2 separate regions of the Homo sapiens genome follow, and region 2 is linked to region 1. The links come from fine-mapping of genetic effects on gene expression. A gene starts in region 1. The other region holds a variant in brackets. All regions are shown on one strand. Distances are from middle to middle.

Region 1 (8,322 bases):
CTGGGAGTCTGACTATGTTAGAAACCTCATATAAGTGGAATCATGCAGTATTTGGTCTTCTGTAACTGGCCTGCTTCACTTAGCATAATATCCTCAAGGTTCATCCACGTTATTGCATATTGCAGGATTTCTTTCTTACTTAGTTTTTTTTTTTTTTCTTTTTTGCAACGGAGTTTCGCTCTTGTTGAGAGCGAAACTTGTTGCCCAGGCTGGAGTGCAATGGCGTGTTCGTATTCTTTTTGGAGAGACCAAGGAAAAACTTTATCCAGTTTTGCAGGAGGTTGTTCTCTGACTTGCTAGCGGGGAGAGATGAGTGGGATTGTGGATAAAGAATTGAGCCTAGGCCGAGTGTGGTGGCTCACGCCTGTAATCCCAGCACTTTGGAAGGCCAAGGTGGGCAGATCACCTGAGATCGGGAGTTCAAGGCCAGCCTGTCCAACATGGAGAAACCCCGTCTCTACTAAAAATACAAAATTAGCCAGACGTGGTGGTGCATGCCTGTAATCCCAGCTACTCGGGAGGCTGAGGCAGGAGAATTGCTTGAACCTGGGGGGCACAGGTTGCGGTGAGCCGAGATCGCACTATTGCAATCCCGACTGATCAAGGAGAGCGAAATTCCGTCTCTGGGCAACATAGGGAGACGGCCTCCTTCACCCACCACCTGCCCCCATCTCCACAAAATGGAAAACAAACAAACAAACAAACAAAAATTGAACCAAGCAGGGGTGCGGTGGCTCATGCCTGTAATCCCAGCACTTCGGGAGGCCAAGGCGGGCAGATCATGAAGTCAGAAGTTCGAGACCAGCCTAGCCAACATGGTGGAACACTCATCTCTACTAAAAATACAAAAATTAGCTGGGCGCGGTGGCGGGCGCCTGTAATCCCAGCTACTCGGGAGGCTGAGGCAGGAGAATCGCTTGAATCCGGGAGGCCGAGATTGCGCCACTGCACTCACTCCAGCCTGGGTTACAGAGGAAGACTCCGTCTGGAGAAAAAAAAAAAAAAAGAACTGAACCTAGACAAAGCAGATTGGCACCTAAATTCACACGCTTTTCAAACTGCCACCACGTCTTGGCCTAGCCTTTTTTTTTTTTTTAGATGGAGTCTCGCTGTGTCGCCCAGGCTGGAGTACAGTGGCATGATCTCGGCTCACTGCAACCCCCGCCTCCTGGGTTCTGGGTTGCAGCAATTCTCCTGTCTTAGCCTCCTGAGTAGCTGGGACTACAGGCTCCCGCCACCGCTACCGGCTAATTTTTTGTATTTTTAGTAGAGACGGAGGTGGGGGGGGGGGGGGTGGGTTTCACCATCTTGGTCAGTCTGGTCTCGAACTCCTGACCTCGTGATCCGCCCGACGCGGCCTCCCAAAGTGCTGGGGATTACAGGCGTGAGCCACTGTGCCCGGCCTATCTTGGCCTAGTCTTTTAATTTCTCCTTCCTCATTGGTAATTTCAGTATAATCTAGCAAAGAGACACTAATTTTGAACGAATGGTGAAAGTATGAAAATTTTGGGATCAATCGATGTAAAAACAATTTACCAGAGAGCCACCGCCAGAGGGGGTATAGCTCAGTGGTAGAGCATTTGACTGCAGATCAAGAGGTCCCCGGTTCAAATCCGGGTGCCCCCTCGGGTTTCTTTAAGTTTTTTTCACAGCCATCCAGGAATAACCTGAGTCAGCGAGTTCTGAATGCAAAACTCACGGGAGGTGTCGTTTGTATCTTCCACCTACCTAATTTTCACCTTGAAAGGATTCCCGTACCCTAGAGGGAGAGAACAGCAACCAGAGGCTGCCTTTAGGTGGATCTGAGCCCTCATACCCCAAGTGGCGATAAGCGCACCAGTACTCTCAGTTGGAGAACAAAGGCGCGTATCGATTTCCATCTCCGATGCCCATTGGTTTAACGTTAATTATAATTTGTTTTGGGGTAAAAAATATGTCTTGGACGGGGCAGTAGTTCGTACTTGACTATGAAAACTAGGAGAAGTAATCCAAATTCAGAGGTTTTCATATACTCGCGAACTCGAACAGGACAGGGCACACAGATAGAAGGTAGACAGCGAGCAATTTTCCCCTCTTCCTTCTTGACTCAGCTCATAGGCAGGGCTTTGGCTTGATAAGCTATACATGGAAAGTTCAAGGCCTAAAGGAGAGGTAAAACTGGTTCCTCCTGGGTTTTGCACGGAACCGCAGCTCTGCTGATCTGTGATCTCTCTGTTCAGCCTAGAGATACAGCTCACAGTAATAGGAGCCAGGAGAAAAAAATGCGCGTTTCCCCGGGGTCCGAGGAATGACACAACCACATTCCGGGTTTAAAATATCGCAGCTGCCCTTTGACCCAGGCAGCACGCCTCTTCCTTTCTCCTTTATTTTTCCTTTTTTTGGGCAAAACCTAGTCGAGGGGGACGCCCTTGTCTCCCGTCACACTTACCATTTTCCTCCGGCCCAACAGTGACCCTGTCAGGCACGCAGCCAGCAGATACTTGTCCCCATCTTTAGGTTATGAAACTCCATGGCCTTTTATTCTTACTTCAGTGGTTCTTAAAATGTGGTCCCCACACCAGCAGCACCAGAGGCACCTGGAAACTTGGTAGAAATGCAAATTCTCGGGGCCCCCTTACAGAATCAGAAACTAGCAGTGTTTTAACAAGCCCTGCAGGTAATTCTGATGCACGTTCAAATTTGAGAAACACTGTGTTCGTTTATCTCAGTTTGCACTGGGTTATAACTTTACTTTTGTACATTAATAGTCAAGGATGAACACAGCACGTCCATGTCACCATTAATACAGAAAGTTGAAGTTGGAGAAGGGCTGTGTCTATGGGTTTCCCTCGCCTGACCCACCCTCCACCCCCAAAAGGAACGCCAAGTTGAGGCGTTCCCCTGTCTCCCTACCCCCATTGGAAACATCCTGTCCCTCAAACCCGGCACCTCGAACTGTCTGACCCATCTGAGGCTGGCGCCCGTGGCCGCAGAAATCCCTACACCTCTGGCGCGAGTAATGCGGTCGCGCAGCTTTTATACCCACCCCCTCCTCCCGCTGAGCACAAAGTAAAACCGAAAGATTTCTGCTAAGGTTGAAAAATGAGGAAGATACTTTTTCTTTTCTTTTTTTTTTTTTTTTTAGTCAGGACCCAATGTTAAAATGTGAGTCAAGAATGAAAAACAGATGGTTAACAAGGGGAAGGAAAAACCAAGCCATTGAGGGGGCACCCGGATTTGAACCAGGGACCTCTTGATCTGCAGTCAAATGCTCTACCACTGAGCTATACCCCCGCGCCTCTACAGCGCCTGGAGGCGGCTCCTTGGGTGCTAAGCATTGTTGCAGCTGCTACACTGTGAGTAGTGGTGTAACAGAAGGAGAAAGGAATGCTGGAGAAAAAGGGGTCAAGCTGAACGCAGACGGTGCCCGCATCCGGGGAACCCCGGGAAGGTGCACTGCAGGGGCTCGAGAGGGAAGCACTAGCCCGGGCCCGGCAGCGCGCAGGGTCCAAGAGGGAGGGACGGGTTCCGCCCCACAAATGTGGGAAAGGGTGTGGGCCGGAAGAGAGCTAAGAGGGGCAGGGTAGGGGGTCCCCGTTCGGTCCGCAGATTCATGCCGGGTAGAAAGTCCCCGAATGCGGTGAATCAGTTCCAGCGTTCAGGAGGATCCAACCCCACCCTCGACGGGCTTGAGGGGTTAGCCCGCCTCCCGCAGCCCGGGCGCCCCAGATGTGCAGCCTGCTCGCCTCTGCGCCGCCTCCGGCTGGGGAAGGGCCCTGGGCACCGGGCGCAGTCAGCCTGAGAGCGCTGAGGCGCCAGCACCGCGGGCCCCGCCGTCCCCCCAGGAACCCGCCCCCGCGCAGCCCCACGTCGCCCGGAGAGCGCGCCTCGCTGCGCGTGCCCTTGCCCGCGCCCGAGGCGCGTGCCCGCCCCAGTGCAGCCCCTCCTCCCCGCTGTGTTTATTAGGGGAAGGAGGGCGGAGGCGGAGGCCAGTTCCCCAGCTCCAGCCGCCGTCGCTGCTGCCTGTGTAGTTGCAGCCGCGGCCGCCTCCCGCCAGCTCGCCTCGGGGAACAGGACGCGCGTGAGCTCAGGCGTCCCCGCCCCAGCTTTTCTCGGAACCATGAACCCCAACTGCGCCCGGTGCGGCAAGATCGTGTATCCCACGGAGAAGGTGAACTGTCTGGATAAGGTGAGCCCGGGACCGGGAGACGCGTCTTTGCAATCCCCCGCAGTGCTCCGAATCCAGGGAGGAGAGAAGGGCCGGGTCTTTGCCGCCTTATCCCCGCGATCCCAGGAGAATGGAGGGAGGGCGAGCGGGCGGTGTCATGGGGTGTGGGGACACATCCCAGTCTGAAAACCAGGAGATCTGGGGCGAGGCGGGAAGTCCACGCGTAGCGGGCAGCCGCTGCTGGAGAGGGGTGGGCTCTGTGTCCCGGGGTTGGGAGGACGGGAGAGGAGCAGGGAAGTCAGGCGCCGGGGTGTGTTGGGGGAAGGTTAGGGGTGCAGTCCCGCCCCCTACGGCCTGGAGAGTGAGAAGAGACGGCCGCTCCCTCTCCGCTCTGCGCCGAGCGCCAAGTAGGCGGAAGCGCGGGGCGCTGGTGGAGGGGGCGGGGGGGCGGGGCAGAGGCTGGGGGGCCCTGCAAAACCGTCCGCTCCGGCGGGGGTGGCCTGGCTTCCTGGCCTGGCGGGGCGGGGGCTATCAGCCTGCGAGTGTGTGGCATCTGATGCGGGGGGTTTTGGGTAAGGACCCGGGCTCTGCCGCAAGAGCCCCGTTTTTGAACGACCTGCACCCCCTTGGATTCAGTCGTTAAAGGACTCGCAGACCTCCTCCACAGCTTCCCAACCCCCACCTCCAATTAAAAGCCAACTCCCGGTGCTGGGCCGTCCAGCCTGAGCCGGGTGGGGTTGGGTGGCAGAGTAGGGTGGGTGGAGGGTGCTTAGCTGAGATCTCCTGAAATTGTGCTCAGAGCCAGGAGACCGTGTGGAAGAACAAAGAGCTAACTTTTCAAAGCAGGTTTCTCCAATGGAGGGTGGGGTTGGCTGAGTTCTGGGGAAGCCGAGGAAAGGGGGAGGTATTGGGGGGAGGGGAGGGTGGCCTTGTGGAGATTCAGTGTCCCCTGGGGGCCCTGTCTCCCCAATGCTGGACTTGTTCATCTGGTTGCCATTAGACTTTTGGAGGGGGGTTGGAGAGTAGAACTGGGTGTTTCCCGTACAGTTTAGGGTAGGATCCTGTTCTCTTGTAAGCTCCGTAAGATCCTAAGGTAAAACCTGCCCCTCTGCATCCCCTCCCCAGTCTGGAGGGGAGGCCTCTGTGATTTTGTGCCCTTCCTCACCGCGTCTTTCATCCACCACCCAAAGCTGGCTCCAAGTCCAAGTATTCTGTCCTTTCCATCTGAACTGGGAGGGCTGGGAGGACTGGATGGAAGAGAGGTGCAAGGGTGGGAACACTAGATGAAAGAGGGGTATAGAGCCCTGGGGCCAAGTTCATTACTGACCTGGAGCCAGGTTTTGTTCAGGAGAGGATAGTTTATTGGACACCTTATCTCTCCCCTCCCCCTTGGTGTGTGAGCTTCCTCAGTGACCTTTGGCCTCTGAGTCAGCGTGAGGAGGTGGGGTTGGAGGTTCTGAAAGATATTTGAACTTGCTCTTGGGGAGTGTGGGCATATGGGGCCGCTGCTGTGTCACTGTTCCTCCTGGTCCTGGGCTTGACTGGGCAGGAGGAGAGGAGGGGGTATATTGTGGGCACGAGGAAAGTTGTTGATCTCCCCATGACCATGCCAGCCGCTGTTGGGCAGGACTTGAGCTTAGAGCTATCAGATAATGAAGTCTCCCCTTGAGAATGTACCTGTCCTTGCACACTGGGGTTTCGCCCGCCCCTCGTGGCAGAGATTTTGGCCTCTGCATCTTGAGTTCCCTGTGGTCCCCTTCTTCTCCACAGTCATGAATTGGGAAGAGGCAGTGGGCACTTGACCCGTATAAGGAAAAAGCAAAACATGAAGGCAGGATTGCCACTCCAGGAGTTGGGAAACTGGGTCCTTGTTCCAGGTCTGCTCCCACCAGTTTTATGAATGTCTCTAGGCCTCAGTATTCACCATCTGTCAGATGGGTATGATGATGTCATTTCCTTAAAGGTGGGGCAGTGCACTAAAGTCCCTGAGTGCTAAAGAGGGTGCTGTATAGACTATGCCCTCCCTACCTCTCTGGGATGCTCTGTTCAGCTCCACACCACTCCCCTTGGAAAGACCTTCAGTGCCGTGTACCCGAGGGGAGGGGAGCAGGGATGGGCAGGGTGCCCTCCCCAGTTCTCTTACCCTAGCTGGAAGAGGACGTTCAAGTGGGGGTTGCCCAGGGAAGTGGGAGTTGGTGATTCCTTCCTCTTTTTAGAACTCTCCCTATAGGAAGTGGCCCTGGAGAGACCTCGCCCCCTGTACTGAGCAGGAGACCTGAAATATCCAGGTATCAGACCTATTCCTCTCCACCTGCTCCAGGCAGTAAGGATAGGACCAGGAATGGGGAGCCAGTGCCTGGAGGATGCTGGGCTGTGACCAGGGAGGAGGGGAAACCTTCAGTCCCATAGGCAGCTTCAGTCCCATAGTTGCTAACCAACTTCCCAAGGCCTCCCATTTACAGCAAAAGAGTCAAATTAGACTCACCCGTTTCTCTACAATCCCCCATGGTACTCAGCCCACTACGTGGCCCAAAGCACAGGGTGTGTCCTTGGTTTCAGCCTTTTCTCCTCCCTGAGCCTTATCTCCCAAAGGCATAGGTGGGTAAAAACCTTGTCACCTCTGAAGGCCACCCTGCCCCCAACCTGCAGTACCCAGCATGCTTTGCAAGCTGGATAAATATGTATTGCTGATGACAGTGTTTGAGGAAGGAGGTCGAGATTTGCTTCTCCAGAGGACTTCTGGGATTAGAGCTGGGGGAGAAACAGGGTGACCTCATTTGCTCATTCAACAAATATTTATTGAGCACCTACTTTGTGCACCTGCTTTGTATCTAGGGAGCTGTGTTGTCAAGAACCTCGCCACGTCCCTCTTTCCTGGCTTGCTTCCCCAGGTTTCTGAAAACAGGTGGAGGTAGAGGATTGGTCTGCTGCCAGTTCCCCTGGAATCCCCTGTTAGGGTGGGCTCTCTGCCTCTGCTTGTCTCAGCGCTCCCTCCCCACTCGAGGGGGTTGAAGTCCTCACAGCTGTGGTGCCCCGTTTTGCTAGCTGAAGCTTAGAGTACCCCACCATCATCTTGTGACCATCCCTTCATAATAGCTACTAGTTATCACGATATGCTGGGCTCAGTCTTCACAGCAGCCTCACAAAGTAGGTGTATTCGCTCTTGTAAACGATGCACTCCATAAATGGAGGCTCAGGTAGCCCATGTGGCTCATCTCCCTCTCTTAGAGCTGAAATTCACATCCACAGTTCTTTCTGCTCAGCTCTTCTGCCAGTGTGTTTGCAGAAAGTACTTTTATTTATACATATTTATATTTTATTTACATCTCATTTGTGCCAAAAGTAGGTCCCATCCCTTCCTGACCCTATCTGGAGGAATGCTCTGGGCCTGGGGTCTTGTATGGGGGCGTGGGGCCACTGGGAATAATCCTGTCCTCCTCGGAATTTGTGGAGGTGCAGCAAAGATCTATGCCTTTAAGCCAGCGGGTCAGGTGGCCAACCAAGCTAGGCTGGTGCCCCGGCCAGGGTGGGGCTGGCATTGCCTCTGCAGGAGGGAGAAACTGTAACCCTGGGCAACAGGAAGGGAAGAGATGGTCTCATAATCCATCCCTGAGTCATGGCCACCCCAGGTAGCCTGGGTTCAGAGGCCAAGGTGCCAGGCTGCAGGCACAGTGACACGAAGCTTGCCACATCCCCCCCAACCCAGAGCCACAGAGGGACAGGCTGTCCCAAGTGAGGGGTATCCTTGCAGGCTTCTGCCCCTACCAGCCTGTTTACCTTTCTTTAGAGTGGGTTGCAGGTAGGCAAGGGAAGATCAAGATGACCCTGCCTTGGAGCCTCGGATCCAGGCTGAGAGGCCTCTAACAGGCAGCAGAGGTAGGGTCTGTCTGGTTTCTGTGAACAGGGAAGCCATGGACTTTGCAGGCAGCAGGAAGGGGCAGAGGTGCATGCCTCGAGGTGCAGTTTCCTTGAGTCCTGAGGCCCAGGAATGCTTCGCTGAAATCATCTTGCCTGGGGCCTTTAAAAGAGGGGGGCTCTTGCTCTGGGACAGAGCCCATGGGGCAGGGCAGAGGCAGACGGGGTCACTGTGGGGTCCTCTGGACATATTTCCCTGACAGTGTCCTTCCCCAGACCCCATTGAGACAAGGCAGGAGTTCTTTCATCTTAGGGTCCAG
Region 2 (8,322 bases), 25 kb after region 1:
CTAAAGCCTACCTCCTCCAGGAAGCCACTCTCCCCTCCCTCTTCCCCATTCACACTCACCCACAAAGGAGGGGTTTGGGGAGGACCAGGGAATTTGCCCCTCCAGGTCATGCCAGTCTGAGGCTGGGCAACCAACCCTCTATAGCCGCGTCCCAAACCTCCACCCACTGAAGGGCAAGGTGTGAAGGGGGCCCTGCCATGGGGGCACAGGATAGGGGGCTGTTCCGCCTCTGTCTCCTTTGGCTTGACTTTCCAGAACACTGCTGAGTGGGAGGTATGTGCCCCTGTAGGAGGGGAGGACGGGTTCCAGGCCTAGGGAGAACTTGGTCTTTAGGGGACACGGAGGAATAAGCAAAGGGTCTGGAGTCCTGAGAACAGAACAGCTGACCCACCCTGCCTGGGGGTGCGAGGGCTCCTGGGACAAACCTGGCCAGTGATGAGGTGGGGTGGGGTGGGGCGGGGCTTCAGCCGATGAAGGATTAGGCGCGAGAATACATGTAGGGGAATTTACCACGTGGGCAGCGCGCCCAGGACCCACTCAGGATCGGGAGAAGACTGCAGAGGTTCCACCCGGGCCACAGAGGGGATCTCTCCCAGTTCCTCCAGAGGGGACTCCTGCTGCCTGATCTTGATGTGACTGCCCGGGTCCATCAGGGAGAACCGACCCTGCCTTTTGTCAGGCTTTCCATGCACCCTCTCTCAGCATCCTCCCAGCAGCCCTGTGAGGAAGGTGCTATCTTCCCCATTGTTACAGATGAGGCGACTGAGGCCCAGCGACTTTGAGGGACTAGCTGAGGTCCTGCGGGTAGGAGAGGCAATAATAATATTCACAGCTGACGATGGAGGGCTCAGTGCTCCCGGCGTGTGAGCTCGTTTAATCCTCACCCAGCCCTGTGCAGCTGTAGCATCACTTCACTTCAGAGAAGAGGAAATAGACACTGGCAGCTTTGAATGTAGGTTTGTCTAACCCAGGGACTATCCACTCCCCAAGAAACAGTCTCTACCTTAATAATAAACATGATAGTTCCTTATGCTGTTGAGAAGTTTTGTAGTTTAGGGCTGGGAGCCATGGCTCACGCCTGTAATCCCTGTGCTCTGGGAGGCCAAGGTAAGAGGATCACTTGAGCCCAGGAGTTCGAGACCAGCTGGGGCAACATAGCAATACCTGGTCCCTAAAAAAAAAAACGAGCAGAGATGGTGGTGTGCACCTGTGGTCGTAGCTACTTGGGAGTTTGAGGCGGGAGTATCACTTGAGCTGAGGAGTTGGAGGCTGCAGTGAGCCATGATCGCACCACTACACTCCAGCCTGGGTGATGGGGTGAGACCCTGTCTCTAAAAAAAGGAAAAGCAAGAAATTGTGTAGTTCAGCAAGTGCCTTTAGTTAGTTCCCCTGTTTATCCTTGACTGGGTTCTGGGAGAAGGTAAAAGACCCAGCGTCTCTGTCTTACAGATAGGGGAACCGAGTGAGTGAATGCGGATCCAGGATTTGGGCCCTGGTCTTGTCACTCCCAAGTCTGGGGCCCTTGATGCTGCACAGCCCTGGTAGGGCCTGAGGCTCACAGAGGAAGAGAGCAGCAGCTCACACCTGCCACCCACCCACCTGCGGCACAGAAGCTGAAGTTACTAGGAAGCAGGGAACACCACAGCCTGCCTGGCCATATTTTACAGATTCTAGCCAGGCCCTGACTCCTGCCTTCAATTCCCTGCCCTGTGGAAGGGCCATGGGGGCCAGAGGTGGAGGGGCTCAGAAGGACCTCGGAGAAGAGGTGCTGGGAGCAGATAGCAGGTCTTTGGAGACACACACACACACACACACACACACACACACACACACACCCTTCTCAGGGGAGAAATTCAAACCCCTCAGCCTTTGTCAGTTCCACAAAAGCGTGGCTGCAGCTCTTTTTGCCCCGGCACCCTATCCCCGAGGGGTGGGGTTTGAGGAGGAAGCACCTCCACGTTGTTCCCCCTGCCCAGGATGGGCAGCAAGTGGGCAGGGCATGCTGTTGGCAGGGGCTGCTTCTGCCCCCCACAGGGGAAGCCAGCACCACGCTCTGGGTTTGGGGGCTCCTGTCCCTGGCCTGTGCCCCCTGCTTCCCAGGGTCATAGCCTGCTGGGTTCCCGGGGGGGCCTCTTGGGAGATGAAAATGGCGGTCACTCTTCATTAGGGCCTCACTGAGGGCCAGAGCGTGTCCGTGTGTGTATGTGTGTGTGTGTGCGTGTGCACGCATGCACGCGTGTATGTGTGTGTGTGTGTGTGCAAGCATGCACGCATGTATGCGTGTATGCCTGACTTTGTTTAATCCTTACAGCCACCTGATGAAAGAGGGGCTCTTATTATCCCCATCATACAGATAGGGAAACTGAGGTTTACAGAGGCTGCCCTGCTTGTGCAGAGCCCAGGGACAGGGGCAGACATCAAGTCCCATGACCTGGCCCTGGAGCCCGTTGCTCTGAACAGTGCTGATGGCACAGGCACCGAGCCCTGTGCTCCCACCCTGCAGGATGCACCAGTCAGCAGCAAGTAGGATGGGCTTGTTGGAATGCAGATTCCTAGGCCCCACCCAAGGGACTTCTGCTTGGCAGCTCTGGGTGAGGCCCAAGAATCTGCATTTTGACTCCCCCGTGATTCTGATAAGGACTTTTGGCCCCACTTTAAGAAGCTTAGAGATGGGTCCATGGGCAGGAGTGTACCGACCCTGTTTGTATGCTCTGAGGGGTGCCACATTAGGGTAGGGCTTTGCACTAAGGGCACGGCTCTGTTCCCCTGAGGTGGGGGTCCTCGGGGGTTGGGGGCTGAGGGCAGGATAGGCAGGGGAGGAAAGGGTACTGCCCTTTTTGCAGGCCTGTTCTGTCTCCCTTCCCACCGCCCACCAGCTGTGTGGTCTGAGACTGGCCTCAGACTGTCTTTCCTCTCATAGCTTTGCTTCCTCACCAGTAAAATGAGGACAGCAAACCCAGTTGCCTCAAGCTGGGGGCTGGGCCTGATGCTTTGAGGCTTGGAAGGGCTGAGCCGGCCAGGCTGGAGCAGTGACGGGTTCTGGTTCCTGTGGCTGCCGTGGGGGCAGAGCTGGAGAGAGCTGCCTGCGGCTAGCAGGAAGGGAAGGGGGAGCCTCTTCTGCTCACCCAGCTTCACCCCACGGGGTCAGCTGGCTTCTCTCCATGCCCCTTCTGGGCCTGCCTTGCCCTTCCCTGTCTCTGGGAAGCTGCCCAGGCTATTTCAGCTTTATTTATTTTCCCATCTCTATATTGGTCTCCAAAATGGCACTTTGGGTGTCTGGGACACCTGGAGCCTCCCCTGTGGAGGAGGTAACCACAGAACTGTCCAGAAATGACCCTCTCGGTGGTCCTGCCCAGGCCTGGCTGAGGCAGGGGGCTGGCAGCTGGACCCCCAGCCCCCCTTCTCACTTGCTGCTCCTATCCCACCCCCAGGCTGAGCAGAGGCAGTGGCTTTGGGGTGGGACTGAGCTGGAGGTGTCTGTATGGCCCTGAGCCCAGGCAGAAGTGCCAAGTGCCAGTAGACTGTTCTTCCATTTTTTCCTTCATCAACTCACCTTGATGGGGTCATGGGAAATTACAGGGGGGTTTCTATCCTCCTCGGATCTTGTAAGCAGCACGGGTGGTAGAGTATCACTCTTACCCGAACTAGCTGGCCTGAGATTGAATCTCGCATCTGCTGCCACCAGCTGTGTGACCTTGGGCAAGTTGCTTAACCTCTGTGCACAGTGCCTTCGTCTGAATAATGTGGATTACCTCTCTCCAGAGGGTGGTGTGAGATAGGAGGATATGTTAAGCATTTAAAGATTCCTGACGTGGAGTCAGCATTCAGTGTTTGCTACTACTGTTCTCCCGGAAAGGAGAGGAAATGGAACTTGGACATGAAGAAGCTGGGAAATACACACAGCAACCTTTTGACCATGACTTCCAGCCCCGGCCCTTTCCATCAGCTCTCCTCTCCATCTGTGTGTGTCTAATTTTTTTTTTAAATTTGTATTTTTTTGAGACAGGGTCTCTCTCTGTCTCCCAGGCTGGAATGCAGTGGCGTGATCTTGGCTCATTGCAGCCTTGACTTCCCAGACTCAAGCGATTTTCTCGCCTCCACCTCCTGAATAGCTGGGACTACAGGCGTGCATCACCATGCCCGGCTAATTTTTGTATTTTTAGTAGAGACAGGGTTTCGTCATGTTGCCCAGGCTTGTTTCAAACTCCTGACCTCAAGTGATCTGCCCACCTCAGCCTCCCAAAGTGCTGGGATTACAGGTGTCAGCCACCGCGCCCTGCCTAAATTTTAAAAACTAGTGTTTCTTTTTTGTTAGAAGGGGATGGGTTACAAAGTATGTTGGCCCAACACATGGTAGGCACATAATAGTGGAAATTGTATTTCGCTCAATAAATTTTGTATTTTTTTAGAGATTTTTATTAATTTTTTTTTTTTTTAAATAGAGATGGGGTACTATGTTCCCAGGCTGGTCTCGAACTCCTGGGCTCGAGTGATCCACCTGTCTTGGCCTCCTAGACTGCTGGGATTACAGACATGAGCCATTTTGTTTTTTAAGTCCAGCCTAATTTTTGTGTTTTTTTTTTAGACGGAGTTTTACTCTGTCGCCCAGCCTGGAGTACAGTGTCACCATCTCAGCTCACTGCAACCTCCGGCTCCCAGGTTCAAGGAATTCTCCTGCCTCAGCCTCCCAAGTAGCTGGGATTACGCCCACCAC[G/A]CCCGGCTAACTTTTTTTGTATTTTTTTTAGTAGAGATGGGGTTTCAGCATGTTAGGCTGGTCATGAACTCCTGACCTCAGGTGATCCACCCACCTCTGCCTCCCAAAGTGGTGGGATTACAGGCGTGAGCCACCGTGCCTGGCATAATTTTTGTTTTTAAGTAATGATCCTTCTTCTTATATTGGGTCATCAAGGCAGTTGTTTTCCCAATTATGCTGCTTTGTTTGGAGATTACGTGTCTGCATTCAATTCATTCATGATCCAACAAATGTTGATCTGCACCTCCTGTCTGCTGGGATGAGAAGCAAGATAGATCCAGGGAGAACAACTAAGAACTGACAGAAAAATTAGAGTTTCACGGATGGTGGTTGTTTGGGTGTCAGGAGCCTCAGATGTCAGTCAGTCCTGGGCCTGACAGCAGAGTTTCCAAAATGGGAGCCCAGGTATCTCCCAGGAGTGGGGTCCTCTGGGAGCCCAGGCATCTCCCAGAAGTGGGGTCCTCTGACCGAAGCGCTGAGTTGCATCCTGGCCTGAGCGACAACTGGGTTGTGACCTTGGGCAGGTCCCTTCCTCCACAGGGACCCCCACAGCACCCTGGTGAGCCATCCTAGACAACAGGGGCAAGCACTCCTGCCAGGGCAAGAAGGGAGCCCTGAAGAGGGGCTCTGGGCTGGGCCCTCCCTACACCCCTGGCCCCCCACCCTTCACTTCTGCCACCCCTTCCATACCCAAAGACCTTTCAAAGAGCCTCCCTGTCTTGATTATCCATAGTCAGGGTCTGAAGGTGCTTTAAAATGGTCACAGACTCCAAATGGGAGGGATTTTAGAGATCAGCTAGCCAGCTCCCTTCAGGGGACCCAGAGAGGGGAACTGACTTGCTTAGAAACACACAGCAAGGTGGTGCTGATCCCAGGCTCCCTCCCTTCTCAGCCCCTACCCCTCACCCCTACCCTCTGTGGGCCTCCTATGTTAGCAGTGAAATGAATGATCCTTCCCCAACAGGGAGGGGGAGGCAGAAGCAGTTCCCGATCCTGGGAACCTGCTGATGTCATTGCAGCGTCGCCATGGCGATTATTCCCCTGGATTAGGGGCCTGACCCTTGCAAAGCCAGGAAGCAGGGGACGGAGTGGGGGACTGGCACTCGTTCAGCACTTCATTGCTGACAGAGCACTTTCACACTGGCCCTCCACAGTGCGCTGCTGCTTTAGAGCCACTGTCTGTATCGTGGGTTGGAGTGACTGGCGTTATGGTCCCCATTTTACAGATGTGGGAACTGAGTCTTGAGATGTGAAGTCGTTGGCCCAAGATCACTCAGAAGTGGGAGACTGAGCCTGCGTTAGTGCTAGCTCCGCCTGGCTTTGTGCCCAGACTTGGTGATAAGAAGCCCCCTCCCCATATTATACCTGATTTCTGTCACAACTCTTTTACAGATGAAGAAACCGAGGCCAGGGGCTTGAGATGCAGGGCTTCTGTATCTGGAGCTACATTTCTCTGCCTCTGAGTGCCCTACCTTCCCCGATGCCCGCTTCCCAAAGGGCCTCCCACTAAGAGTCACCGTGCTGGCCCAGGGCTTCCAGGACTGAGGAAGAGCTGGTGCTAGGCAGGTTCTGGACTCTTGGGGTGGGTTGGTGCCTCTATCCACTGCATTCACTTCTGAACTAATGGGGAACAGCACATCCAAGCCCTTCTTGTCTGGATCAGAACAGAGAAGGAGAGGGAACCACATGGATGAGTGACTGGGGGCTTCAGGAGACAAACAAGGACTCTGACCCCCACAGGCATGTGCAGAGGACCTGACAGGTGTGGCCGTGGCTGCATGCGCATGCGCAGTCGCTCCAGTCCAAGCACAGCTCGGTGCTGCTGCCAGATGATTCCCTGCCAGGGAACTGCCTGGGTTTGTGTCCTGGGCTGACCTGTGTCCAGGACAGTGCAGCCCCCGTGGAGGAAATCCAAGCAGCTGGTGGGGTCTGGAACAGATGGCTGATGAGGTGGACAGTGAAGTCTCTGGAAGCCAAGGAATAGTTTCCTGTTCCATGAGTTTTCTCAGCCTCATTCTGTTCTTCAAAACCCTCAGGGGAGGACAAGCTGTTCCTCATATTTCAATTCCTTTCGTGCCAGGGAAGTCCTTTCTGATGTCTGACTTGAGTCCCTCTAGTACTGTGGTGGGGTGGAAGGGTTCTTCCCTGGAGCTTGGAGACCTGCTGAGATGCTGTCTGACCCCCGCTGCTTTCCTCCCCTCCTATGGCGGTGGCCTCTGAAGCCATCCCGGCAGGCTCCCAGAATCCGCGGGGCCTGTCAAAGGCGCACTGATGGAGCCTTCCCTGGGGCTGTCTCACCACCCTCCTTTCTGGGCACCAACTCTGTCCTTTGGCACAGCCCTCACTCAGCTGGTTGCTGAAAAGCTCCCCCAGGCGTAGTGGGCAGGGCCACATCCTGGCTAACATGAGGGCTGGGGCCACCCTGGGAGCCCTGGAAAGAACCTTTTTCCTATAAGCTTCCAGACAGGATGGGCAGGGAGTGAAGGGTCAAGAGTCAGGCAGATGAGGGTTTGCACTCTGGTAGTGCCGGACATTGACTGCTAAGCTCTGTGACCTTGGGCAGGGGACTTTGCCTTTCTGTGGCTCCGTTTCCTGATCCGTAAATTGGAGCTGTTAATTGCGTGGCTATATGTATGGTGGGATCTAAATGAGATGGTTCATGTAAGGCCCTGGACTCTGTGCCTGCCATTCACTGTGCACCAAAGACTTGGTAGTGGCTTATTATTACGAGTCTAACACCTTTTGGCTGAGGCCTCTGCTTTGAGTTGGGGACTTCTGATCAGGGTCTTTCTGCTGACTCCCTGTCCCTGTCTCCTGACTGGTTGCTGCCTCAGAGGGGCCCCAAGCCGAGGCCCTTTCGGCTCCTGGCCTGACTCCAATCCCTCTTCCTCCCCTCCTGCAGGTGCGCTACAAGGAGGAGTTTGAGAAGAACAAGGGCAAAGGTTTCAGCGTAGTGGCAGACACGCCCGAGCTCCAGAGAATCAAGAAGACCCAGGACCAGATCAGTAACGTGAGCTCTTGCCCTGCCCTGCGGCATCCCTGCTGCCCTCTGTTTGGTCCCCTTCCTGCCAGCCTGGCAGACGCAAGCCTGGCAGATGTGAATGAGGCCAGTGCCTCCACTACCCCTGCCCTCCAGGGTGGGCCTGGGGAAGAGCTTGGGGTTCCCAGATGCCTCTTCTCTGTGTACCCCCAGACCACCAGCACGCATAGCATTTTCTTCTTGAAGGGACTGTATTCTGTGGGGGCCTGTGTGCTAAATCAGCCCCCACTCTCTCTGACTGTTGTTCTTTTTTCTGGATATCGTGGGTATCGGTGAAGACTGCATGTCTCATCTTAGCACAAAGGTCAAAACTGGGGGGCGGGGAGCACCTGGCCTCCCCTGGTCTGCGCCTGGGTGCTGACATTGCAGTCATTTCCGCCCTTCCTTGGCCTCCTCCCCCACATCAGCCTGCTCTTCCTTCCTGTGTAAAAACCCCAGCCAGCTTCACCCGCCAGCCCTGCACCCCCTGGCTCACACCCCCCGCCTCCCTGATGGTCAGTGGCATCTGGCTGTGGCAGGGGTGGGCATG

The links. PIP is the estimated chance that this variant, and not a neighbour inherited with it, causes the effect.
Region 2: its variant is fine-mapped to the expression of LASP1 in blood mononuclear cells (TOPMed, PIP 0.97).

Annotation. Positions count from the first base shown.
Region 1 is chr17:38,866,091-38,874,412 of GRCh38, forward strand. LASP1 (LIM and SH3 protein 1) reads left to right here and starts at 3,968. Exons shown (of 7, transcript NM_006148.4): 1 at 3,968-4,168. The coding sequence starts at 4,100. TRC-GCA2-2 (tRNA-Cys (anticodon GCA) 2-2) reads left to right here and starts at 1,555; the gene lies at 1,555-1,626. TRC-GCA4-1 (tRNA-Cys (anticodon GCA) 4-1) reads right to left here and starts at 3,273; the gene lies at 3,202-3,273. RefSeq lists a cis regulatory region at 1,347-1,960, enhancers at 1,619-2,221, 2,222-2,822, 2,398-2,577, 4,068-4,217, 5,230-5,831 and silencers at 2,178-2,277, 3,698-4,007, 4,528-4,627.
Region 2 is chr17:38,890,757-38,899,078 of GRCh38, forward strand. It overlaps LASP1 (LIM and SH3 protein 1), which reads left to right. Exons shown (of 7, transcript NM_006148.4): 4 at 7,656-7,763. Among named protein-coding and RNA genes, the nearest start is that of MIR6779, 20 kb to the right of the region's middle. RefSeq lists enhancers at 2,144-2,717, 4,804-5,325, 5,326-5,847, 5,848-6,369, 7,598-7,707 and 2 more. The variant G/A (reference allele first, on the strand shown) is at 4,715.